Linked DNA regions of Homo sapiens. The protein of the gene in region 4 interacts with the protein of the main gene of each other region in a pairwise test. Each region holds a gene or a part of one and is shown on either strand. Other genes may lie near its edges.

What was found.
Region 1: the proteins of RAB5A (region 4) and TBC1D15 interact in a two-hybrid assay, tested with the Homo sapiens proteins (one study listed by BioGRID).
Region 2: the proteins of RAB5A (region 4) and ITSN1 interact in a protein complementation assay, tested with the Homo sapiens proteins (one study listed by BioGRID).
Region 3: the proteins of RAB5A (region 4) and TRIM14 interact in a two-hybrid assay, tested with the Homo sapiens proteins (one large-scale study listed by BioGRID).
Region 5: the proteins of RAB5A (region 4) and SGSM3 interact in a two-hybrid assay, tested with the Homo sapiens proteins (one study listed by BioGRID).
Region 6: the proteins of RAB5A (region 4) and RIN3 interact in a two-hybrid assay, tested with the Homo sapiens proteins (one study listed by BioGRID).
Region 7: the proteins of RAB5A (region 4) and SYNC interact in binary tests that used the Homo sapiens proteins (3 or more experiments, as listed by UniProt).

Annotation. Positions count from the first base shown.
Region 1 is NC_000012.12:71,912,759-71,916,258, forward strand, and holds part of TBC1D15 (TBC1 domain family member 15), read left to right. Parts: intron 1-321; exon of another isoform or gene 322-374; intron 375-1,067; coding exon 1,068-1,168; intron 1,169-3,500. UniProt on the Homo sapiens protein: Acts as a GTPase activating protein for RAB7A. Does not act on RAB4, RAB5 or RAB6.
Region 2 is NC_000021.9:33,775,001-33,778,500, forward strand, and holds part of ITSN1 (intersectin-1), read left to right. Parts: coding exon 1-108; intron 109-3,500. UniProt on the Homo sapiens protein: Adapter protein that provides a link between the endocytic membrane traffic and the actin assembly machinery. Acts as a guanine nucleotide exchange factor (GEF) for CDC42, and thereby stimulates actin nucleation mediated by WASL and the ARP2/3 complex.
Region 3 is NC_000009.12:98,095,223-98,098,722, forward strand, and holds part of TRIM14 (tripartite motif-containing protein 14), read right to left. Parts: intron 1-3,500.
Region 4 is NC_000003.12:19,974,597-19,978,096, forward strand, and holds part of RAB5A (ras-related protein Rab-5A), read left to right. Parts: intron 1-1,004; coding exon 1,005-1,156; intron 1,157-1,450; coding exon 1,451-1,573; intron 1,574-3,500. UniProt on the Homo sapiens protein: The small GTPases Rab are key regulators of intracellular membrane trafficking, from the formation of transport vesicles to their fusion with membranes.
Region 5 is NC_000022.11:40,398,094-40,401,593, forward strand, and holds part of SGSM3 (small G protein signaling modulator 3), read left to right. Parts: intron 1-2,602; 5' UTR 2,603-2,713; coding exon 2,714-2,720; intron 2,721-3,499; coding exon 3,500-3,500. UniProt on the Homo sapiens protein: May play a cooperative role in NF2-mediated growth suppression of cells.
Region 6 is NC_000014.9:92,649,781-92,653,280, forward strand, and holds part of RIN3 (ras and Rab interactor 3), read left to right. Parts: intron 1-1,801; coding exon 1,802-3,295; intron 3,296-3,500. UniProt on the Homo sapiens protein: Ras effector protein that functions as a guanine nucleotide exchange (GEF) for RAB5B and RAB31, by exchanging bound GDP for free GTP. Required for normal RAB31 function.
Region 7 is NC_000001.11:32,692,771-32,696,270, forward strand, and holds part of SYNC (syncoilin), read right to left. Parts: intron 3,275-3,500; coding exon 2,095-3,274; intron 1-2,094.

The DNA.
Region 1 (3,500 bases), on a different chromosome or scaffold from region 4:
TATTTTCCAGACTTCCCAAGCTACCAATAAAGAAATTTCTACATGATTTTAATAAATACACAAAAGTTACCGAAGTTGAATGATAACGTTTAAGTAAAAAGGCTTAGTATAAGTTCGTGTCCCTTCATTGGTTCAAGAACCTCTTAAGTCTGAAAATTTTTCAAGTCTTGAAAATTGTAAAACAAGGATAATTGAGGGTTTTATAAGAGGAAGTAAAAAAGAAGTTTGACATGTTCAGGTGAAAAAGTAAAACTAACACTTTTTCTTATTTTTAAGTGAGGGATCTGACTCCTTAATTTTCTAGTTTTTCTTTTAATCAAGGGCTCTATTACTGTCACCATTGAGAAATTGTAATAATATCAAGAGACATGTAGGTAAGTGGTCACTTTAGGTACAAAATATTGATTGGGTTAAGCCCAGTTGCTGGCATTGGTTGGGTGTAGAGAGTAACAAAAAAAGAAAGAAGGACGTAGATATGACTATTTAAAAGAGGCTCTTAATTTTGTAACTCCTGTTATGTGAATCTAAAGGTCTGATTGTTAAAGCAGTTGAACCCAAAGTTCTTGTTTTATGTGGCTTACTCATGGTAGTTTGGCATTGCTAACCACTCTGGGCTTGCAACTTTCTTGTTAATTTTTGCAACATTATTCTCGCTTGATTTTTTTCTTTACTTCTCTGACTGGTCTTTCTTAAACCTGTCTTTGAGTGTATACTCTTACATTTGATGTTCCTCTGGATTATCTCTTCACCCCTCTTCTTTCTCATGATGCTCTTGCACATTATTTTTAAAAATATTACCCACTCTTGATAGTGTATCTGCACTGAGACACGTACTGGAAGCTATATATTGTTTGACATCTCAATCTAAAACAACTCATCTTTCTTACTTATGACTAGAGTTCCTCCTCTTCATTTATATTCTTTTCTTGGTGAACATCAGTGTCTACCAATTTCTAAATGCAAAGGAGAAAGATACAATTTTAAGCGAAATGGTGGTGATATGCACAACTTGCAGAAGGTTACATAAAACTTGGGTTTTCAGAGATGATTTTTTCTTTTCTTTTTAGGATATGTTCAAGGAATGAGTGATTTACTTTCCCCTCTTTTATATGTGATGGAAAATGAAGTGGATGCCTTTTGGTGCTTTGCCTCTTACATGGACCAAATGGTAAGAACAGAGATTCCTTCCATTAAACTGATTTTTAAAATTTTAGTTGTATAATTTTATAGTATAAGGTTGATTTTTATATTTAGCCAACTATGATGGAACTTAAAAAAATTACCTCATGCCTTTTGTTACTTTTTCTTTTTAGTAGCCTTTCAAGGGCTTAGAAATACTGGTGGTATTTTTAATACAGGAAATAGTTTGTGCCTGTAGTATAGGAATAATCAGGATTTAATATCAGTAAATGCTTATTTTCTACTAAAGAGCCATGTGTCATTACAGAATATTGATAAAATAGATGAATTCAATTTTGTGGAATAGTTGAACTTTAATATCATCTGTTTCAGAGATAAAGCTTAGTCATGCCAAGTAATATCCTTACCTTTTGTGAAGATTTTGAATTTTGTCATTATAGTAACTGATTTTTCTCCAGATGTGTTTGAACTATTTGTAACTCTGACACTTTCTTAGGAATTCATTGTTATTTTCCCAGAAGTATGTGATTATTAGAATTGAACTGTCTATATATACATGTTAGTACAAAGAACATTTTATCTATTATCATTGTTAAATCTTTGAGACAGAGTTCTAGGATAATAGTGCAGAGAATATTGACAGGAAAATAAAAGAAAAGTCTCTTCAAGCAATCTCAGAAAAATAAAAGCAGAAGGGGTGAGACTAGATAAAGGCAGATGAAGTCCAAAGACCTGACTACATAGAGGTTGCTGTGTTTTTTCAAAATAACACTAACATACTGGATGCTGGGCCTTTATGTTGGATATTGAAATGGCTGGCTTGCTTGCAAGGGATAAACATTTTGAATCTAACCATCTGAAATATTTTCCTGTAATACAGGGTTTAACTCAGAGTTTCTGGGATACAAATGTGAAATTTGGAAGTGGTACCCTTCTCCTTTTTTCTTTACTTCTATTCTTTCCCTTTTGCTTGCCTATTTTTCTTTCTCCTTCAAATTTTCCCTGCTTGTGGCTATTTCCCCAAATCTCTTGTCCATAGATTCAACTTGTTTTTGCTTCTTTCAGTTTTTTTCTAAATGTATACTTGGTAAGATTTGATAGATTTAAAATGTTCTTTTACATTAAATTCATGAATATTCAAATTGGTTTTTTGCCATAAATTAATTTTTTTTGACTATTTGGAAGGATTATCAATGCAGTAATTTGGTAATGTCATAGTTTGTCTTCCTTCCTTTTTTGATTGATTTGTCTACCTTCTTAGTTCCATTTACTCCCAAGTGCTCTAGAAACCTGAGGCATTTGTTATAAAGGTCTGTACAGCTGATACTAATTACATAAAAACTGTTGTCTGCCTTCCTTGTGTTTTTGTTGTTTATCCTCTTTTCACCAGAGCTAGTATGTTCCTTGATAAAAGGGATTATATCTTGTTTCACTGGTAGCATACCAGAATTTTCCTAATGCCTGACATGAGGTTGTTCAACGGGTTTTTGTAGAATAAACATGTGAATCTTTCCCCAGTGATTAGTTTAAATTGCTATAGTAGATATTCTAAAAAAAAAAAAAAAAACACAACTAAGATGAACATACTGCATTTAGTATCATGCAATAAGTTTTCAATAAAACTAATCCAATATTGGCATGTAAATATATATTGACATATAATGCCACATACACACATGCATACAGACGTGTGTATATAGGTCTCATATGTAAAGACTACCTTCTGAACATGTGTAATAAACACTTTACAGTCCGTCATTTTTTGTGTATGAAGGTTCAGTTTCTTTGTTCTGTCATTTTCACAGTAAATGCTCTCTGTGTTTGCCTTTTCCATTAAGGATGTTCTGGGGATTTTTCTAGTCTTTATTCTAAAAAAGATATCTTATGATTATGTTGTCTGCTAACATCTTTTCTTTCATAATATTTGAATGAGAGGGAAATATATGGCAATCAAAATAACCTGTATGATTGTTTTTCACTGCATTGCCCTTGTTTGATGTCCCTAAATCTGTGCTGCTGTTTCTTGATTCTGTGTTTCTGTTTTATAGCTTTACTTCATGTAAGTTTGTACTACCTTTGTGGTGGCTGAACCTAACGTCTGTAAATTTACTTTTGTTGATGTTTACTTGCATCTAATGTAGGTCTAGGCATAGACTTTGTCTATTATCATGGAAATACAAAGTACAAGTGATCTGATGAACTTTGTTATACCCATCATCCATTTTGCCATATAGTTTTAATTCCTTTCTCCTCTCCATCTCCCCCTCCCCTGCCCCATACAGACACATTTATTTACAGACACATTTGAAGCCCTTTGTATATCCATTGTTGATCCCACTCTCCCTTCTCCAGGAGTAACC
Region 2 (3,500 bases), on a different chromosome or scaffold from region 4:
CAAGATATCAGATGTCGATTGACCACCCAAAGGCAAGAAATTGAGAGCACAAACAAATCTAGAGAGTTGAGAATTGCCGAAATCACCCATCTACAGCAACAATTACAGGTGAGGAAATATGCCTCTTAAAAGCTATTATATTAAACTGGCATCCTTTTCTCTAATTCATTTCATTTACTTACTTATTCAGTAAACATTAAGCAACTGTCTTGTACTAGGCACTGGGAAGCAAAAATGAAGTAGACAGGGTCCTTGTGTGAAAAGTAGCCTGTCAAGGAGACAAACTCAGCAAATATTTACTGAGCACTGCTTCGGGCCAGGTGCTTTTGCAGTTTCTGAGGCTACAGCAGGGACAGACACTCTGTCTTCTGGGAGCTTACCCTCTGTTTGCAGGAGGAACAGAGACTAACAAAATAAAGTGTGTACTGTATTAGAAGATGAAAAGTGCTATGGAGAGTGAGTAGGGAAGGGAATAGAGAGTCCTAGGGATAGGAAATGTTGTGATTTTAACTAAGGTAGCCAAGACAGGTCTTTCTGGATGGTGACATTTGAGCAGAGACTTGAAATTAATGACAGGCTAAGCCATGTGGGTATCTGGCAGAGCAAGATCTAGGCAGGGAAATAGTGCCAAAGTCCTGAGGTCGTAGCAGGACTCTGAGATGCCAGTTACAGCAAGGAGACTACTGGGTAGAGCAGGTGGGAGCTGGATCACACAGAACCTGTAGTCCACCAACAGGACTTTGGCTTTACTGTGGTAATTACAATAAATAAGTACACTTAAGTATTTTAGGGGGTCATATGAGAGCTATATGTATACTAAATAGTTGGAGACATACAGAGCACTTTTAGTAGTTCTGTCTTCATTTTAAAGCCTATCCAAAGTTGTTATAATATCACCTGGTTTGGTATCAAGTGCTGAACTACAGGGGCATCAAATTCATGTAAATATTGCCTGTGGATGATCATATTTGCCTGTGATTCCTTTATGTTAGGCTTTTTCTCAGCATGATGTTTTTGAGATGTGTCCATGTTACTGAGTGAATGACTCTTTTGTTTCTTTTCATCACTGAGTAGTGTTTCCTTATGTGTCCATTCACCTACTGGTTGATATTCAGGTTCTTTCCAGTGTGGAACTTTTATGAATAAAACTGCAGTGAGCATTTATGTACAAGTCTTTATGTGGAAATGGTTTATTTCTCTTGGGTAAACTTTTAGGAATGGAACTACTGTGTCATGTAAGTGTATATTTAACCCCATAAGAAACTGTCAGGCTGGGCACAGTGGGTCACACCTGTAAACCCAATACTTTGAGAGGGCAAGGTAAGAGGATTGCTTGAGCTCAGGAGTTTGAGACCAGCCTGGGAAACATAGCAAGACCCCATCTCTAAAAAAAAAAAAAAAAAACTTAAAAATTAGCTGGCATGGGGGCGTTCACCTGTAGTACCTGCCTGAGGCAGGAAGACCACTTGAGCCCACGATATCGAGGCTGCAGTGAGCTATGATTGAGCCACTGACTGCCTGGGCCACAGAATGAGACCCTGTTCAAAAAAAAAAAAAAAAAGAGAGAGAAAAGAGAAAGGAAAGAAAGAGAACTGACAAACTGCAAAGAGTTTGTACCATTTTACATTCTGATCATTTAATTTGTATTTCCCTGAAGGCTAATGATGTTGGGAATCATCTTACATGTTTATTGGCGAGTATTTTTTACTGTGCATCTTCGTTGAAGTGTCTGAACAAATCTTTTGCCCATTTTTTATTGGGCTGTTTGTCTTACTATTTACTTGTAAAAGTTCTTTTTATATTCTTAACAAGTCCTTTGTCAGATACGTGTTTTGCAAATATTTTCTCCCAATCTGGCTTGGGTTTAATTTTTGTTAGTGGTATTTTTTAAAGGGCAGAAGTTTTAAATTTTGATGAAGTTCAGTTTACCGTTTTTTTTCTTTTGGTGTTCATGCTTTTTATGTTCTATCTGAGAAATCTTTGACTACCCCATGACTGCAAATATTTTATTTTCTTCTAGAAGTTTTTGGGGCTTAAAAAAATAATTTTTACAAGTTTTTATAAATTGAAAAAAACTTAAAATTTTAAGTTTCATAGTTGTATCTTATATGTTTAGGTCTATGAGCTATTTCAAGTTGATTTTTGCAGATAGTATAAGGTAAAGGTTGAGGTTTATATTTTTACATACTGATACACAGTTGTTATAGCACCATTTATTAAAAACACTGGCTTTTTTCCCATTGAGTTACCTTGGTAGCTTGTTGAAAATCAGTTGAACATATTTGTAATGGTCTATTCTGGACTCTATTCTGTTCTTTTGATCTGTCTGTCCTTTACCAGTACCTCACCCTGTTGATACCTAATTTTTGAAGTCAAGTGATACGAATTCTCTGTTATTGTTCTTTTTAGAATTGTTTTTGGTTATTCCAGGTCCTTAACATTTCCATGTACATTTTAGAATCAGCTTATCAGTTTTTACAAAAATGCTTGGAATTTTGTTGGAATTCCATTGAATTTATAAATCAATTTGGGAAGATTTGACATCTCAGCAATAGTAAATCTATGGCATAAATCTCTATTTTGGTAGTTATAAATTTCTCTCAGCAATGTTTTGTAGTTTGCAGTGTCCAAGTCTTGTAGATACTTTGTAAAGTTTATCCCTAAGTATTTTGTGGCTTTTGATGCTATTGTATATTGCATATTTTTATTTTAGTTTCCAGTTGTTTGGTGCCAGTATATGGAAATAGAATTTATTTTTGTATATTGACCTTATATCTGTGATTGCTTAACTAACTTCCTTTGTGTGTCTTACTTTGTTGACCAGAACCTCCCATACTATATTGGATAGAAGTGGGAAGAGCCTTGTTCCCTCTCGATGAAGGAAAGCTCTCTCACCATAGAGTATAGTGTTAACCAGGGTTCTTGTAAACACCTTTTATCAGGTTGATGGACTTCTCCTTTTGCTGAGGGTTTTTATGATGAATGGGTGTTGAAATAGATCATATGTTTTTTCCCCGCATCTATTGAGATAAGTATGTGTTTTTTCTTTCTTATTTTGTTAATATGATGAAGTACATGGTTGCCATTTGAATGTTAAATCAGCCTTCCATTCTTGGGATAAACCACTCTTGGTCATGGTATATTACCCTTTATTAAAATATTTCACTACATTCCATTTCCCATTATTTTATTAAGGATCTTTTTAAATCTGTTGAATTCAATTCAACAGAGATATTGGTTTTTAGTGTTCTTCTAATATTCTTGTCTAGTTTTGATATCAGGGTAATGCTGGCCTCAGAAAATGAGTTGGAAAATATTCCTTCCTCCTCTATTTTCTAAAAGTGTTTGTGTTGAAATAGCATTTCTTCTTTAAATTTTGGTGGCATTCACCAGTGAAGGCCTCTGGGCCTGGAGCTTTCTTGAAGACTTAATTATAAAATTCATTATGCAGATATAGGGCTATTCTGATTTTCTTCTTCTCCTTGAATCTGTTTTGATTA
Region 3 (3,500 bases), on a different chromosome or scaffold from region 4:
CATGCGGAGGTGCGGTTTTTCAGTGCTGGCACTGGGGATTCCTCCCTCTCCATCCTTCCTCCTTTCCTTCCTTCCTTACGTGTTCATTGAAACCTACTCTGTGCCAGCTATGCATGCAGAAGGCAGGGTCAGGCTGACACGGGGCCCTTCCCAGAGAGGCTTCAGCCTCACACACACTGCGCCACGGGTCTGCCTTGGGTACAAAAAGGGTGAGAGGTCAGTCTCCCTGGGGAAGGAGCACCTGGAGCTTATTCAAAGGTGGAGCAGGAAACCATGTTCTAAGAAGGACGCCAAAGGCCAGCAAGGTTCAGCTGCAGTGCTGACTGAGGGGGTGTGGCCACCGCAGGGGACATGTGTCCTGTTTTGCACCTGGACAGCCCCTCTTCAATACTTTCCTGTGGTATGTGGCTTCACTAAGGAGAAGCTAGAAAACCCCCTCTCCCAGCTCCCTTTGCACCTGTGCTGCAGGAGTGTGACCAGACGCCTCCAAGCCAAAGCGTGGATTTGGAAATGACGGTGAAGGTAGTGATGGTGGCATGTGGCACTGAGGGACAGCAGTGGTGGGGGCTCTGGTCAGTGGTGTGAGTGGTGATGTCTTGCCCAGCAGGGGTGCCGTGGGGCCTATACTGGCACCAACCCCTGCTGGAGTCTGGACTTCATTCCTGCTGCCCATCTTCCATCCCGACTCTCTGGCCCTCCTGGAGATCCTATGGGCTATCTCATACTCTTCCATAAACTCCTTTCTTGCTTAAAACAGTTCCAGTGGATTCTCATGTTTGCAGGTAAGAACCATGGCTGCATTTTCTGAAGCTCTGTCCTGGCCAGGAGTTGGAAGGAAGATGACTGCCTCAGGTGATCAGGCTTGGCTGGCAGTGGCAGTGCTGCCCACCCGAGAAGGGGTGGACAGATGAGGGCCTCAGGAGGGAGGGAGGGTGGCCTAGCACTTGGCTGTTGGGCAGGGGCAGATCCCACCTGGCAGCATGCTGTACATTGGGAGGGGGCTGTGAGATGGCCTGCAAGCCCCATTCAGCCTAGGAGGCCAGGAGTCTATAGAGTCCAACCTCATTTTGGTGGGGAACCAGGCCTAAGGTCACACCCAGAGCGCTGGAATGGAGCTGGCCAGGGGAGACCAAGCACTAGCAGGAAGTCCAGGGTGGGCAGGGAGCAGCTCCGGGGAGGCGAGAGGGGGCTCAGAGGGCAGATGAGTAGGGTAGGATGAGGGGTCGATAGAGGACACATGGCACCACCTGGTAACCCCAAACTCCAGCAGCTAGCACCAGACCTGACACACAGGTTCTCAAAACATATGTATGATGGAATAAATCAATGCATGAAACCGAGCACAGCCACTTTTTTGCCTTTGCAGACTCAGAGAACAGAAATCCCAGCCCTTCATCTCTCAGGCCAGAAACCCAGGCATCATCTGGGGATTCCTCCTACCCATTCTCCAATTCCAATCTCCATTCCTGTGGCATCTCTTGACCTGCCTGTTTCTCCCCATCCCCACTGCCCCTGTCTTGGTCCAGGCCACCATCATCTCTCTCCTGGACATTGTGGCCTCCTCCCAAGTTCTCTTCCAGCCTCCCATCCTGGCCTCCTCTGTCCATCTTCCACTCTATCTCTAAAGTGACTTTTCTAAAGCACTAATCTGACCATGTGAATGCTTTCATCCCTCAGTTCAAAACACTCCCCTGGGCTGGGTGCAGTGGCTCACACCTCCCAGCTCTTTGGGAGGCCAAGGTGGGCAGATCACTTGAGGTCAAGAGTTTGAGACCAGCCTGGCCAACATGGTGAAACACTGTCTCTACTAAAAATACAAAAATTAGCTGGGCATGGTGGCACGTGCTTGTCGTCTCAGCTCTTCCAGGGGCTGAGGCAGGAGAATCCCTTGAACCTGGGAGGCAAAGGTTGCAGTAAGCTGAGATTGAGCCACTGCATTCTAGCCTGGGCAATAGAGTGAGACCCTGTCTCAAAAACAAACAAACAAACATTCCTGTCTCCTATCTCATTACAGGACAAAGTCTGAACTCCATGGCACATAAGGCCTTCATGAACTAACTATGGCCTATGGATCCAGCTGTGTCTCTCAATCCCCCCACCCTTATACCCTCACCTCTCCTCAAGTCAGGCTGCACCCCAGCTGGTTCCCCAGCCTGTCAAGCTCTCACATGTACACAGTTCCTGTCTGTCCTCTCTGCGTCCTCTCTATATACAGTGTGCTCCTACTCATTGTCCAGCACCCAACCCTACCATCACCTCTTCCTAGAAGTCTTCCCAGACTGCATCCTTCTCCCAGCCAGAGAGTGTCAGACATTTCTTGGACATAATTTTGCTAGCTTCATATTTACAAAATTGTTTAAGCTGTATTGTAAATAACTGTTTCTGAGCAAGTCCCCCACCCAACTGTGAGCTCCTAATGTCCAGCAAGTGACCTGGCTCAGTACATATTGATGAATAAACGAATGAACACATAGAAGGTGGGAACGGTGAATGATTAAAATCATTAGCTGTGGCCCAAGAGAATTTGAAAAAAAAAGATGACAAAGCCCTGAAACCGTTTTCTGATGTGAGAATAGCATGCTTCTCCATGGAAGGATTCCTTTGTATTCCATAGCCTTAAAAACGACCATTATTTAAAAAGAGACAATTACATGTAACACTTTGTGCATCTTGCCTCTCTTAAAGCACAACACCCATTATGCCTAGGAAAACACTTCATCCAGAATTTGGCTCAAACAGCTGACAATGAGACACAGGCTGAACCGACTGAGGCCACATAAAGACACAAGAGTGGAAATCCCCAGCTGGAGACTGGCTTGGCGGGTTTTGTGTTGACTGGCTTATTTGTCTGTCTTATTTTCCAGCCAGAGCCCATACTAATCTGTGGTTAGAGTTGGTGCCACTTTTAGTTGTACCCTGCCTTGTCCCACAGCCTTTAAAGTGTCTTGTGAAGGTCCTCTAATAAGGCAAGATTTTTCTTTATAGCGAGAAAAATGAAGCTAAGAGAAAATTAGACACAAAGTGTTTGCCATGAAGCCTTAGTCTGGTTAGTCAAAGCAGATTTGGCTCTGAACTTCCCAAGGCAAAGAAGGAAACAGGAGGAGCTCTATTAGTGGAAAAGCAATTCTAGTGCAGAAGTGACTGCACAGGGATATTGACACCAGACAACAGTTTCTTCCACGGTTCCCTAAAGACAGGAACACCATCGGCCGGGTGCGGTGGCTCACGCCTGTAATCCCAGCACTTTGAGGGGCCGAGGGGGGCGGATCACGAGGTCAGGAGATGGAGACCATCCTGGCTAACATGGTGAAACCCCATCTCTACTAAAAAATACAAAAAATTAGCTGGGCGTGGTGGGGGGCGCCTGTAGTCCCAGCTACTCGGGAGGCTGAGGCAGGAGAATGGTGGGAGGTGGAGCTTGCTGTAAGCCGAGATCACACCACTGCACTCCAGCCTGGGCGACAGAGCAAGACTCCGTCTCAAAAAAAAAGAAAAAAGTA
Region 4 (3,500 bases):
AATTAAAGTGTCACAATGTTTTAAAAAATAATATAGCAAGAGGCCTGGTACGGTGGCTCACGCCTATAATCTCAGCACTTTTGGGAGGCACTCCAGCCTGGGAGATAGAGCAAGACTGTGTCTCAGAAAAAGAAAAAAAAAGATAATATAACAAGAAATACTAATTTGGTGGTAACTGACTGGGACTAAATTGCCAGTGTGCGCCAATAAAAACTAGTAAAATGGAACAGGACATGGTGTCAGCAGTATAGATGGTACTTTTAGGCACACTGGGTTTCCCCCAACTTCATTTTTTAAGACTATCAGTGCATTTCTTTAATTGTAGAGCAATTTTGAAATGCAGTCTTCGCTGGGCTTGGTGGCTTACGCCTGTCATCCCAGCACTTTGGGAGGCCAAGGTGGGCGGATCACCTGAGATCAGGAGTTCGAGACCAGCCTGGCCAACATGGTGAAACCCCATCTCTACTAAAACTACAAAAATTAGCCACGTGTGGTGGTGCATGCCTGTAGTCCCAGCTACTCAGGAGGCTGAGGCAGGAGAATTGCTTGAACCCGGGAGGCGGAGGTTGCAGTGAGCTGAGATCACGCCCCTGCACTCTAGTCTGAGACTCTTGTATCAAAAAAAAAAAAAAAAAGAAGAAGGAAAAGAAATGTAGTCTTAAGTTTATTTAGTATTATAACAAGCTTTTTTAAGATGCAGAAGTTTTTCAATCTGTGATTTCACTACAAAGGCCCTATATGTAAGCATATATGTAAATAGCTTAGAAGCACAGGTTTGCCAGTATTTAAAGCTATTATCAGCTGTGGGTATGCAATCTGTCAAGTTTCTAGGTGTTTTCTTTTTTTTTCCCCCCTCATTTATTACTTTTAACTGACACATAATAGTTGTACATACTTACGGGGTACAGTGTGACATTTTGATAGATGTATACAAGCAGGTGTTTTCTATATTATGAAAACATTTGGAGAAAAATGATTGACTTATTGTAGTCCTTTTCTTTCAGCTGCTTTTCTAACCCAAACTGTATGTCTTGATGACACTACAGTAAAGTTTGAAATATGGGATACAGCTGGTCAAGAACGATACCATAGCCTAGCACCAATGTACTACAGAGGAGCACAAGCAGCCATAGTTGTATATGATATCACAAATGAGGTAAGTATGGATGCATTCCACAGTAAAACTAATTTGAGTACCCACTTTTGGTGTTCAGAATTTTGATTAAATGTTTTGGAAAATCTTTTTCTGATAGTCATGACCTTTCTGCTGAAGCTTTTGTGAATTAGAAAATCTGGTTTTAAAAAAAAACGAAAATGTCTCATAATACAATAGTCCTAATAATTTCTTTCCCACAGTCACTTGGGACAGTCTTTTAAAGCCTTGTATCACAAAGATGCTTGGTAACCATTTTTTGAGCCTGTGCTCAATGGCTGTTTCTTTGTTTAACAGGAGTCCTTTGCAAGAGCAAAAAATTGGGTTAAAGAACTTCAGAGGCAAGCAAGTCCTAACATTGTAATAGCTTTATCGGGAAACAAGGCCGACCTAGCAAATAAAAGAGCAGTAGATTTCCAGGTATGTTAAATTTAACTCTCATTTGAAAGGCACTTTTTTCCTGTATGTTTTTCTTTCATGTCAACACTTGAATTAGTTATAATGTCAAAACCATGCAAGTAATAGAAAATACTGATTTTTAAAACAAATATAAAGTACTACATATAATAAAATGTTTCTGATAAACCTAAATTTTTAAATAGATTATTGTAATATATAAACTGACCCAAAGATTTTGTAGACTTAAACAATAAAGGCCGGGTTCAGTGGCTCACGCCTGTAATCCCAGCACTTTGGGAGGCCGAGGTGGGTGGATCACCTGAGGTTGGGAGTTCAAGACCAACCTAACCAACTTGGAGAAACCCTGTCTCTACTAAAAATACAAAATTAGCTGGAGATGGTAGTGCATGCCTGTAATCCCAGCTACTTGGGAGGCTGAGGCAGGAGAATCTCTTGAACCCAGGAGGCGGAGGTTGTGGTGAGCCAAGATCACACTATTGCACTCCAGCCTGGGCAACAAGAGCAAAACTCCGTCTCAAAATAAAAAAGAAAAACAGTAAAAGTAGTCATTGTTCACAGTGCAGAAAGTGATTGTATCCTGCCCTAATTCCTCCATCCCACACATACTTTATGTCCTAACCCTCTTCTACTCATGTGCAAATATGTATCAGCACATGTGTGTACCCCACATATGTACATACGCAAACACTTATGTGGTTGTTCTTAAAGGGGCATTCAAACATAAAGGTTCTGCCAATCTGTATCCAGAGTTGGAAAATAATAAGCTAAAAACTAATAATTAAAAAAAATTTTTTTAAGGCTGAGAAAATCCAGTTTTGTATTACGATTGCTAATTCAGAATGTTTGCTGCTGCAAAATAGGCAAGTGCAATCACTTAAAAACAAAGCAAGTCCTCTATTTAGACTTTTTTTTTTTTTTTTAAGATGGAGTCTTGCTCAGTTGCCCAGGCTGGAGTGCAGTGGCGCAATCTCAAGCTCACTGCAAGCTCCACCTCCTGGGCTTACGCCATTCTGCTGCCTCAGCCTCCCAAGTAGCTGGGACTACAGGCGCCCACCACCACTCCTGGCTAATTTTTTGTGTGTTTTCAGTAGAGACAGGGTTTCACTGTGTTAGCCAGGGTGGTCTCGATCTCCTGACCTTGTGATCCACCCGCCTCCGCCTCCAAAAGTGCTAGGATTACAGGCGTGAGCCACCACGCCCGGCATACTTAGACCTTTTAAAACTGTGCCTGTTCTCTTGCTCTTTGGCTTCTCTACTAGAAGGGCGGTTGTGGCTGTTCTGTATATATCAGTGATGAAATAGTTTTCTTTTTTGATGACGTAGATGGAATCCATGTATTCTTGCATCATTAGGTATTAAGTTGGGCATGTTACATTTGTAATTTTATTTAATTCTTAGGACAACGATGTGAGATGTAGTATCCATTACTCTTTCCAAAATTGTTGCCTTCCCAGCACAAGAGTGGCAGAGAAAACACTTAAATTACAGTCAGAAGTGGCCCTGTCACATAACAGTTCAGAGGAACCTCAGTTGTTTCTTTGTCCAATGGGAAAGATCATTGGTTACCCCTCACAACAGCTATGAGGATCAAAAGTAATAATATATGTAAACTGTAAAAGCATGACAAAAATGTAGGGCAGTGATGTAATTTTCAAAGGAATGATTTATGATATATTCAAGATTATAATATTGCTGTAGAAGTCATTGAAAATTAAATATGAGGTTGTCATTTAGTGTTTGAAGCCAGTGTTAGATATTTGGTTTCCCTTTGTCTTCATTGCAGACAGTAAGTGCAAATAAAAATTGCCGTTGAGATCAAAGAGAGTTTTATTTAGAATAAGATAATTCTCCCCCATCTCTGGAACTCAGTATTTGAAAGCAGATTTAATGTAAGAAAAGATTAATCAAGGTGGGATAATGCAAGAAT
Region 5 (3,500 bases), on a different chromosome or scaffold from region 4:
AGTAGCTGGGACTACAGGCACACGCCACCACGCCCAGCTAATTTTTGTATTTTTAGTAGGACAGGGTTTCACCATGTTGGCCAGGATGGTCTCAATCTCCCGACCTCAGGTGATCCACCCACCTCGGCCTCCCAAAGTGCTGGGATTACAGGCGTGAGCCACCGGGCCCAGCCTGTCATCTGATTCTCTAATGTAAGGGTCAGGACTTTTTCCCCCACTGTTGTGTCCCAGCTCTTAGAAGCTGCCTGGCTCTTAGGGGTGCTCAGTCCCCATTTGCTGATGAATGAATGAGTGGGAGGACAGCCAAGATCAGGAAAGGGGAGGGACTCCTGAGTGGGCCTTCCCAGCCCCTTCAGGCCTCCACAGCCAGATGTAGCTGATTTCTCTGCTACAAGCAGCCTGCAGGTGCTCTGTCACACTTTTACTCTGCCCTTTCAGAACCACCAACCAAACCCCTGCCTCTGGGGCCGATGGTGATGAGGAGTCTTTCTCATGCTCTCAACTGGGACATGTTATGTGGAACCATACACAGTTGTCATTTTTCTAGGCTGTAATGGATGAATATCGGCAATTTAATATGGTTCAACATAGTTTTTAGTATACCTCAATGAGGAGGGTCCATATATTAACAATAACTTTCTAAAAATTTTTAGGACTACTAATTGCCTGATACTTATTGAGTACTTATATGTGTCAGGCAGTGTGCTAAAGGCCTTATTTGCATCAGCTCACGTAATCCTCATAACCACAGTAAGGCATAGGTATTATTATTCCATTCTATCGAAAAGAAAACTGATACAGACGTGAAGTAAACTTGCCCACGGTTATAACAAGTGGGCACAGGCCCACTCTGCTACACGAGTAGCAGAGCTAGGATTGGACTGGAGATGTCTTTACTTTTTTTTTTTGAGACAGAGTCTCACTCTGTCACCCAGGCTGGAGGGCAGTGGTGCGATCTTGGCTCACTGCAACCTCTGCCTCCCGGGTTCAAGCAATTCTTGTGCCTCAGCCTCTCAAGTAGCTGCGATTACAGGGATGCATCACCATGCCTGGCTAATTTTTTTGTATTTTTAGTAGAGACAGGGTTTCACCATGGTGGCCAAGCTGGTCTCAAACTCCTGGCCTCAAGTGATCCGCCCACCTCAGCCTCCCAAAGTGCTGGGATTACAGGCGTGAGCCACCGCGCCCAGCCAAGATGTCTTTACTTTTAATCATGGTGCAGAGGATGAGCGCTGAGCCCACTCCCTCCCAAAGCTGACACGTGGTTGTTCTGCCACAGCCATTTGCCATCTCAGGCTCCAAGCCAGCAGGAGGCGTAATAGAGCACTGGGTTCCATTCCCAGGGCCATCTAGCTGGTGGCCATGTGTCCGTCATTTCACAGGGTGGGGTTACATGGTGTGGCAGGGCAAAGTTTTGGGAGTCCATTTGGAAACTATCAGTCTCTCCTAGGCTTATTTTCTGTTGTGTAAGGAATGAATGTGTTGTAAGGATTGAATGATGACATGACATGCTTTTTAAAATTTCTAGCTCAGTCTCTTTAATGTAAAAATATGTAATCATCCAGCTCATAGTTCTGAGGGAAACCCTATATCACATATATTTTACACTGAAGGAAGACATTAAAATTCCATTCTCTTCACACAGAACCAACCAACCAGGATGGCTGGCCTGTTGGGGAAGCAGGTTCTGCCATCTGGTTCTCAGCAGGCATGTCTGGAAGCAGGAGGGAGCGTCTCTCCCATTTGGGTACCAAAGCCTCTGTAACAGTCAGGAATGTTCTGCTGTGGCCTTTATCCTAAACTTGGCTTGGCCAGTGTGTGTCTGGGGCAGGAGCAGAGGCCGGGACACAGCTGAGCTGCCCACAGGAGCTATTTTTGCCCCCACACTTGTATGTCTTTAAAGAGAACTGGGATTTTCTCACAGCTCCTTTGAAGTGGTGGTTTGATTTTCCTCTTTTTTGCTTCTCACTTACCTAATTCTTCCCGATTTATCTAGAATTCCCAACACCAGAATTCCATGGCAGATAGCATGGAGAATAGGTTCTGTTATGGACCAGGATAACAACTGTCATTTCTGAATTCTCATTGTGTGAAAAATGGCAAAAGTAAATTTTTCTTCAGTGCCAGGTTTAGGTAAATATGATTTCAAAAACCGGAATGTAACTTGTCTTGAAATCTTTCAACCACATCTCCTCGTTGTCACCTACTTCCTTTCGTAGAGTGAGAGCCTTTAATTCTGTGGTTAGAAGTAAAAGGAAGTAAAGGCTTGGCCGGGCGCGGTGGCTCATGCTTGTAATCCCAGCACTTTGGGAGGCCGAGGCCGGCGGGATCACGAGGTCAGGAGTTCGAGACCAGCCTGGCCAATATGGTGAAACCCCGTCTCTACTAAAAAGACAAAAATCAGCCGGGTGTGGTGGTGCAACCCTGTAGTCCCAGCTACTCGGGAGGCCGAGGCAGAAGAATCTCTTGAACCCAGGAGGCAGAGGTTGCAGTGAGCTGAGATTGCACCACTGCACTCCAGCCTGAGGTGACCAAGCGAGACTCTGTCTAAAAAAAAATAAAAATAAAAATAGAATGACTTTCCTCTTTTCTCTTCTAACAGGGCAGATGATTCTGGACCAGATGAAGCCTGAGGAGCCTTCCAGCTCTAAGATAGCAGGATAGGAGACTTCTAAGATTGGAGCTGCAGAAGACTTGCCAGCCCACCAGCACAATGTCAGGTAGAGGCAGGGGCTGGACTTGGAAACGGGGTTTGAAGCTCTCACAGAGGAGCCAGAGGGATGGAAGGTGGCTTGTTTTCCATAAAACACCATCCAGATAAGAGAGGTGGAGATGGTAGGGAAGGCTTCTGGCTGGCTGAGAAAGTTATTAAAACTTCCTTCTCAGCTCTGCTCTCTAGCTCTCCTCCTCCAGCTCTCCAACCCGCAGATCTGCAGTCCTCAGGTGGAGAAAGAGGCCGGAAGATGAAGTTTGGTCATGTTTTGTAATGTGCTGCTGTTTCTTTCCCCTCTTCTCCAGAAATTTGCTGATTTCTAGGAGGTTTCTTTCACTCTGCTCCTTCCCTACCCAGCACGCTTGAGATGGGCCAGTCCCTTTAATGCTGGTGCTCTTAGAGGGAGAGGGTATTTCCTGATTTGAATTTTGCCTCTGCATTTTCTATTTTTTTTTTATTTTTTTGAGGCAGAGTTTCGCTCTTGTTGCCCAGGCTGGAGCGCAATGGCACGATCCTTGCTCACTGCAACCTCCGCTTCTTGGGTTCAAGCTATTCTCCTGCCTCCCGAGTAGCTGGGATTACAGGCATGTGCCACCACGCCCAGCTAATTTTGTATTTTTAGTAGAGATGGGTTTCTCCATGTTGGCCAGGCTGGTCTCAAACTCCTGACCTCAGGTGATCTGCCCACCTCGGCCTCCCAAAGTACTGAGATTACAGGCGTGAGCCACTGCGCCTGGCCTGCCTCTGCATTTTCTTGATTGTTCTCCTGGTCCTCTTTGGTTTTAGG
Region 6 (3,500 bases), on a different chromosome or scaffold from region 4:
GTTGTCATGCTTGTTAGTGTGATGAGACCTGGTCTCTCTCCACTGGCTGTGATATTCAGGCAGCCAGACACAGGGTATCTGCCCAGGACAGGGCTGGGGGGTGCACCTCAGAGGGGTGCACACAGCTGGTGGGTCGCAGTTCACTTCCGGTCTGTTTCTTCAGTCCCTTTGTCCTGGAAAGGCACCTGCTTACCCTGATTGCGTTGGTGACCCCAGCCAGCAAGATGGCAAATGCCTACATCCCTGATAGTGCCCACCTCTTAGAGCGAGCACACGCTTGGCTGCTCCAGGCCATCTTGTGAGGTCTCCTTTCAACATCAAGAGCCTGTTGTGTTGTTGCCACATCCTGAGTTCTGGGCTGCAAGCCACCCTGCTACTCACCGATGCCGGGAGAGCAACCAAAATATGGGAAGTGTCGCAAGTTCCTATGAAGGAAGGCCGCCTAACACGGAGGCTAAACACACAGGCTGTAGAACCAGCCCGACCTGGTCAAATCCCAGCGTCTCACTCCCCAATCCGGTGACACAGGGCGAGTGCTTTCATGTTTCTGAGCCTCTTACCCTCATCTGTGAACTGGGGGCAAGGCCTATGATCAGGGGTCGGCAAGATAACCCAGGTAAAGCAAGGAGCCCGTGGGCTCACGCGCAGCAAGAACGCCATGGATGTTTGCTCCTCTGATTATCCTTGATGTTATTTTCCATAGTTTTCTTAAGGGTGAATTCCTCCCAGGAGTGAAGAGCCCTGGGTGAAAGGCTGGCTGCACCAATTCACAAGGAACTCTGCATCTGCCTGGGTCATCCTCTGTCCAGCTCCAAACCTAGCAGGCTGAACAAGACCTGGGACCCTTGTTTCTCTCCAGGAGGAAGCTTGAGTGAACGCAGGGTGGCCTATGCACTGACTGCAATTGTTCCCAAGATGTAGCATCCCTGTGTGCTCTTTGGAGGGTCCTGAGCCTCCGTCAGATGCTTGGCAGAGTGTGGTCCCCACAGATCAAGATTGCCTGTCCCTAGCCTGCTTTGGTGGCCACAGCCATGACTGAGCCCCTGGGGACTGGGTCGGTAGAGAGGCACGCACTGGAACTCAGCTCCACGGTGCAGGAGCCTTGGCTTCCCCTGACTGGGGCAGACGACCAGCTTCTTATTTTAAGCTCGAGGTTGACTGGAGTCAGAATCACTTTGTGGTGGGTGGCTGCTCCCCGCTTGGACAGCCGGGTCTGATCTCGCTGGCCACAATCCATAGGTTCGTCCTTCCCACATATAATAACCATGGAGGCCAAAACAGGCCCAATGTTCCTTCCTCCTCGTGTGCCTGTGATGTGTGTACTGTTGTGACCCCATTTTAGGGATGACTAGACTGAGGCCTAGGAAGGTCAAACCACCTGCCCCAGAGCACCCAGCTGGTTGGCCGCAGGAATTCCAGGCCTTCCGTCCCCTGTGCTCTCACCATGCCTTCCCCACGGCTCCAGAGCACAGTGTTGTCACCCCCCACCCTGTGTCATCAATGCCCTCCAATGTGGGCTCTCACACCAAGGAAGAGAACTGAAGCTGAGCTTATCACATCACCCCCGGCCTCACCCTACACTGCTGGGGAGGACTGAGTGGGGCTTCCCCTCTCGAGGCAGGAAGTGGTGGGAGAGGTTTGAAAGCGTCCAAGAGGGGAAAACAACCTCAACCTCGGAGTAGTGAAGCAAATGCCTTGAACAGCCCTCCCACCCGTGGACCCCGCCCACAGACCCCGCCCAGCACAGCAACACCTAGTCCCTGGCACAGACTGACCCCCTGCCCCTCTCTTGCTTCCACAGGTTTCTGGGACTCCTCGCTGAATCCTCCACAAGAAAGAGGGAAGCCAGCAGAGCCCCCAAGAGACCGGGCCCCCGGATTCCCCCTAGTCTCCAGCCTCAGGCCCACAGCCCATGACGCAAACTGTGCCTGTGAAATCGAGCTGTCGGTAGGAAATGACCGCCTGTGGTTTGTGAATCCTATTTTCATCGAGGACTGCAGCAGCGCCCTGCCCACCGACCAGCCACCTCTTGGAAATTGCCCTGCACGCCCTTTGCCGCCCACCTCTGATGCCACCTCACCCACCTCCAGGTGGGCCCCACGCCGCCCACCACCCCCTCCCCCAGTGCTGCCCCTGCAGCCCTGCAGCCCAGCCCAGCCCCCTGTGCTCCCTGCTCTTGCCCCCGCCCCTGCCTGTCCTTTGCCCACCTCTCCCCCAGTGCCTGCCCCCCACGTCACACCCCATGCCCCAGGTCCCCCAGACCATCCGAACCAGCCGCCCATGATGACCTGCGAGAGACTCCCATGCCCCACTGCAGGCCTGGGCCCCCTCAGGGAGGAAGCGATGAAGCCAGGGGCAGCCTCCAGTCCCTTGCAGCAGGTCCCCGCCCCGCCACTGCCTGCGAAGAAGAACCTTCCCACTGCCCCTCCCAGACGCCGCGTTTCCGAGAGGGTGTCCTTAGAAGACCAAAGTCCGGGGATGGCGGCAGAGGGGGACCAGCTCAGCCTGCCTCCCCAAGGGACCTCAGACGGCCCTGAGGACACGCCCCGGGAGAGCACGGAGCAAGGCCAGGACACAGAGGTGAAAGCCAGCGATCCTCACAGCATGCCAGAGCTGCCCAGGACAGCCAAACAACCCCCAGTCCCGCCCCCCAGGAAAAAACGGATCTCTCGACAACTGGCCTCGACCCTCCCAGCTCCCTTAGAGAACGCTGAGCTCTGCACACAGGCGATGGCCTTGGAGACACCCACGCCGGGTCCACCCAGAGAGGGCCAAAGCCCTGCTTCTCAGGCTGGGACTCAGCACCCTCCTGCCCAGGCCACTGCCCATTCCCAGAGCTCTCCAGAGTTCAAGGGCTCCCTGGCCTCCCTCTCAGACAGCTTGGGGGTGTCTGTCATGGCCACCGACCAGGACTCCTACTCCACCAGCAGCACGGAGGAGGAGCTGGAGCAGTTCAGCAGCCCCAGCGTGAAGAAGAAGCCCTCCATGATCCTGGGCAAGGCTCGGCACCGGCTGAGCTTTGCCAGTTTCAGCAGCATGTTCCACGCTTTCCTCTCCAACAACCGCAAGCTGTACAAGAAGGTGGTGGAGCTGGCGCAGGACAAGGGCTCGTACTTTGGCAGCCTGGTGCAGGACTACAAGGTGTACAGCCTGGAGATGATGGCGCGCCAGACCTCCAGCACGGAGATGCTGCAGGAGATTCGCACCATGATGACCCAGCTCAAGAGCTACCTGCTGCAGAGCACCGAGCTCAAGGCCCTGGTGGACCCCGCCCTGCACTCCGAGGAGGAGCTCGGTCAGTGCCCTGGGAGGAGGTGGCAGGGAGGAGAGGGCGGTGGGGCTCACAGACTCAGGAACCCCTTAGGACAAAAGAGGCCTATGCAGTGGACGCTGTTGGTGCCCACCCCCTATCCCTTCCTGGGCACCAGGAACTTTCTCTGGCTGCTGCAAGGTAGGCTGCTAATGGTGCCCGGCTCCCCCCCTTCCCTAGAGAATTGACC
Region 7 (3,500 bases), on a different chromosome or scaffold from region 4:
GAGGCGGGTGGACTGCCTAAGCTCAGGAGTTTGAGACCACCCTGGGCAACATGGTGAAACCCCATCTCTACTAAAATACAAAAAATTAGCTGGGTGCAGTGGCGGGCACCTGTAGTCCCAGCAACTCAGGAGGCTGAAATGAGAATTGCTTGAACCCGGGAGGTGGAGTTTGCAGTGAGCCGAGATTGGTTCAGTGCACTCCAGCCTGGGTGAAAGAGCAAGACTCTGTCTCAAAAATAAATAAATAAAGATAAAAATAAAAAACATTCAGTATTATGACCCCAAAAACCACAGTGTTTTTTTTTTGTTTGTTTGTTTTTGTTTGTTTTTGAGATGGAGTCTCACTCTGTCACCCAGGCTAGAGTGCAGTGGTGCAATCTCAGCTCACTGCAACCTCCGCCTCCCGGGTTCAAGCGATTCTCCTGCCTCAGCCTCCCAAGTAGCTGGGACTACAGGCATGTGCCACCATGCCCCCCTAATTTTTGTCTTTTTAGTAGAGACGGGGTTTCACCATATTGGCTATACTTGTCTCAAACTACTGACCTTGTGATCCACCCACCTCAGCCTCCCAACCAAAGTGCTGGGATTACAGGCGTGAGCCACCGCTCCCAGACAGAGTGTTTTCATAATACAAACTACAGAAAGCTTGACAAAATCTTCAGTGAAGTGAATGCAGCCATTTCAACAGGGAAACTTGTTCCCTTAAGGGCATATCACAATCTCTGGGAAGACATAGATTTCTAAGTTTATCCAAAGGAATCAGTGTTTCAAAAGATTAAAGTACTGCTTAGAGCACCACACTACAGTCTTCTCATTAGTGCCCAGCAGCACATGTGCTCTGAGCCTTGAGTAGCAGAGAGTAATACAACAATAAGTAAAATGTATTCCCTACCTTCTGAAAGTTCACAGTCTAGGAGGGACTACGTAATTGTTTATTCACTTAGTATTTATATCCCACTCTGTTCTAAAAAGGGATTAGAACTGGCTCACACTTAATCAGAAATAACTTGAATGCAAGAGAGATGGGGACAAATGCACATAAAAGGAAAGTGAAGATGAGAGGATTCTATTAAGGTTGGTGCAAAATTAATTGCAGCTTTTGCCATTAAAAGTACTTGAGCCCAGGATTTCAAGACCAGCCTGGGCAACATGGCAAAACCCTGTCTACAAAAAATACAAAAATTGGCCGGCTGCGGTGGCTCACACCTATAATCCTAGCTCTTTGGGAGGCCAAGGCAGGCGGATAGCTTGAGCTCAGGAGTTCAAATCCAGCCTGGGCCACGTGGTGAAACCCTGTCTCTACAAAAAATTAGCCAGGTATGGTGGCACACACTTGTAGTCCCAGCTGCTTGGGGGCTAAGGCAGGAGGATCGCTTGAGCCCAAGAGGTTTGAGGTGCAGTGAGCCCTCAAGATTGCACCTGTCTCAAAAAAGAAAAAATTAGCTGGGCATGTTGGTGCACAGTTGTGGTCCCAGCTACTCAAGAGGCTGAGGTGGGAGGATCGCTTGAACCTGAGAGGTCGAGGCTGCAGTTAGCTGTGATCATGCCACTGCACCAGCCTAAGTGACAGCAAGACCCTGTCGCAAAAAAAACAGAGTGCAGGCCGGGCGCGGTGGCTCACACCTGTAATCCCAGCACTTTGGGAGGCCAAGGCAGGCGGATCACGAGGTCAGGAGATCCAGACCATCCTGGTTAACAACAGTGAAACCCCGACTCTACTAAAAATACAAAAAAATAGCCGGGCATGGTGGTGAGCACCTGTAGTCCCAGCTACTCAGAAGGCTGAGGCAGGAGAATGGCATGAACCCAGGAGGCAGAGCTTGTAGTGAGCTGAGATCGCACCACTGCACTCTAGCCTGGGCGACAGAGCGAGACTCCATCTCAAAAAAAAAAAAACAAAAAACAGTGCAGATAACTTCTAGTCCCTAGCATGGGCCTGAATGAATGAAGAATGGAGAAAAAATTGCGTGGCCCCAAAGAACAAATTTTTCTTCCTACATGTGACACTATCTTTCAGCCCCAAAGACCTTGGACTCTGGCCACTCTTTCCCCAGGTTAAAAGACCTCAGTTCTTTTCATGCCCAATGGGCCTACCCTGTACTGCTGCACCTCTTCATCTCGTTTTTGCCTCACAAGTGCGATCTGGTCCTCCAGGTTCCTGTTTTGCAGGCGGAGCTGCCGGGCCTCTGCTTGCAGGGGTCTCAGAGCCTCCTTCATTTCCTGGATCTCAGCCTGGGTTCTCTGCAGAGCTTTGGTCCCAGCTTCTTTCCTCTCTAGGAGCCGCAGGAACTGAGGCTCATACTCCTCCTCCAGGTCCTGGCGGCTCTCTGCCATGAGATTTTCAAACTGGGCAGAGAGTCGCCGGCTTTCCTGGAGAAAGTGCCCATCCCTCTGGCTTGGAGGGGCTTCTAGTTGTTGCCGCAGCTGCTCCTTCTGCTTCTGATAGGCATCCCGGAGCTGGGCCAGTTCCTCTGAGAGCTGGGTTGCCCTTGTAGTCAGCACTTCCCGGAAATCGGCAAACTGAGCCACGTCCTGCTGGCGGCACTCCAGCTGGTATTGGTAGGCCACACATTCCTTTGTCACTTTGAAAAGCTTCTGCTTGACCAGCCGGATCTCCTCCCTTAGGCCATCTCTCTCCAGCTCTGCTTGGGCATGGAGCTTGTAGGCAGCCAGGATGTCTTGATGGACTTGCTGTACCTCCTGCAGGGCTGGTTCCCGGAGCAATACAAGCTCATGGATGAGCTGATCCCTCTCCTCTTCCAGCTGGGCCACAGCTTGGACACACTGCTGGAAACGCCCCTCTAGCAATTCCAGGTCCTCTATGCTCAGGTTCTCCTCCATGCTGGGGCTCTGCTCGGCTCTGAGGCTCTCCTCAGGGTTAGATTTCTCCGCCCTTGTGACTGTCTCTCCCTCATAAACAACGTGCTCTGGGCTTGTGGGCTTTCCTGGCTCCACGGGCCCCTCCACAAACTGTATCCGATCTGGCTCCGTGGTTTCCTCCACACACACTGTCTCCTCTGGATTCCCAGGCTCCTCCACATGCAGAGCCTCATCTGGCTGCATGGCCTCCTCAATATACAGGGCCTCCTCTGCCTTCTCAGTCTCTTGCACATAGAGTGTCTCATCAAGGTCACCTGTGTCCTCCAGGTAGAGAATGTCTTCGAGGTTTAAGGACCCCTCTGAAGATAGAGTAACTTCTGGGTTCAAGGCTTCTGCCTCATTTAGGGATCCAGAGTTCTTTGGAAGAGGAGAATTGGCCTCTACTCTTGTTTTCCTGCAAAAGAAATGATTGAAAGTGAAAGGGCAGCCACAATCCCAGGATGGTGCAATTCTGGAGCCAGCAGCCATGGGCCTAGACTACCTCAGGTTCTTAGATGTCAGCAGCCATTCGTCTGCTCCCTCCACTCTGTCAATCCACCCCTCCACACACCCAACCACGGTGTAGATCCCCTGCCAGCATCCCAGCGACATCACCATATGGTCTCTGCTTATGCAGCTCC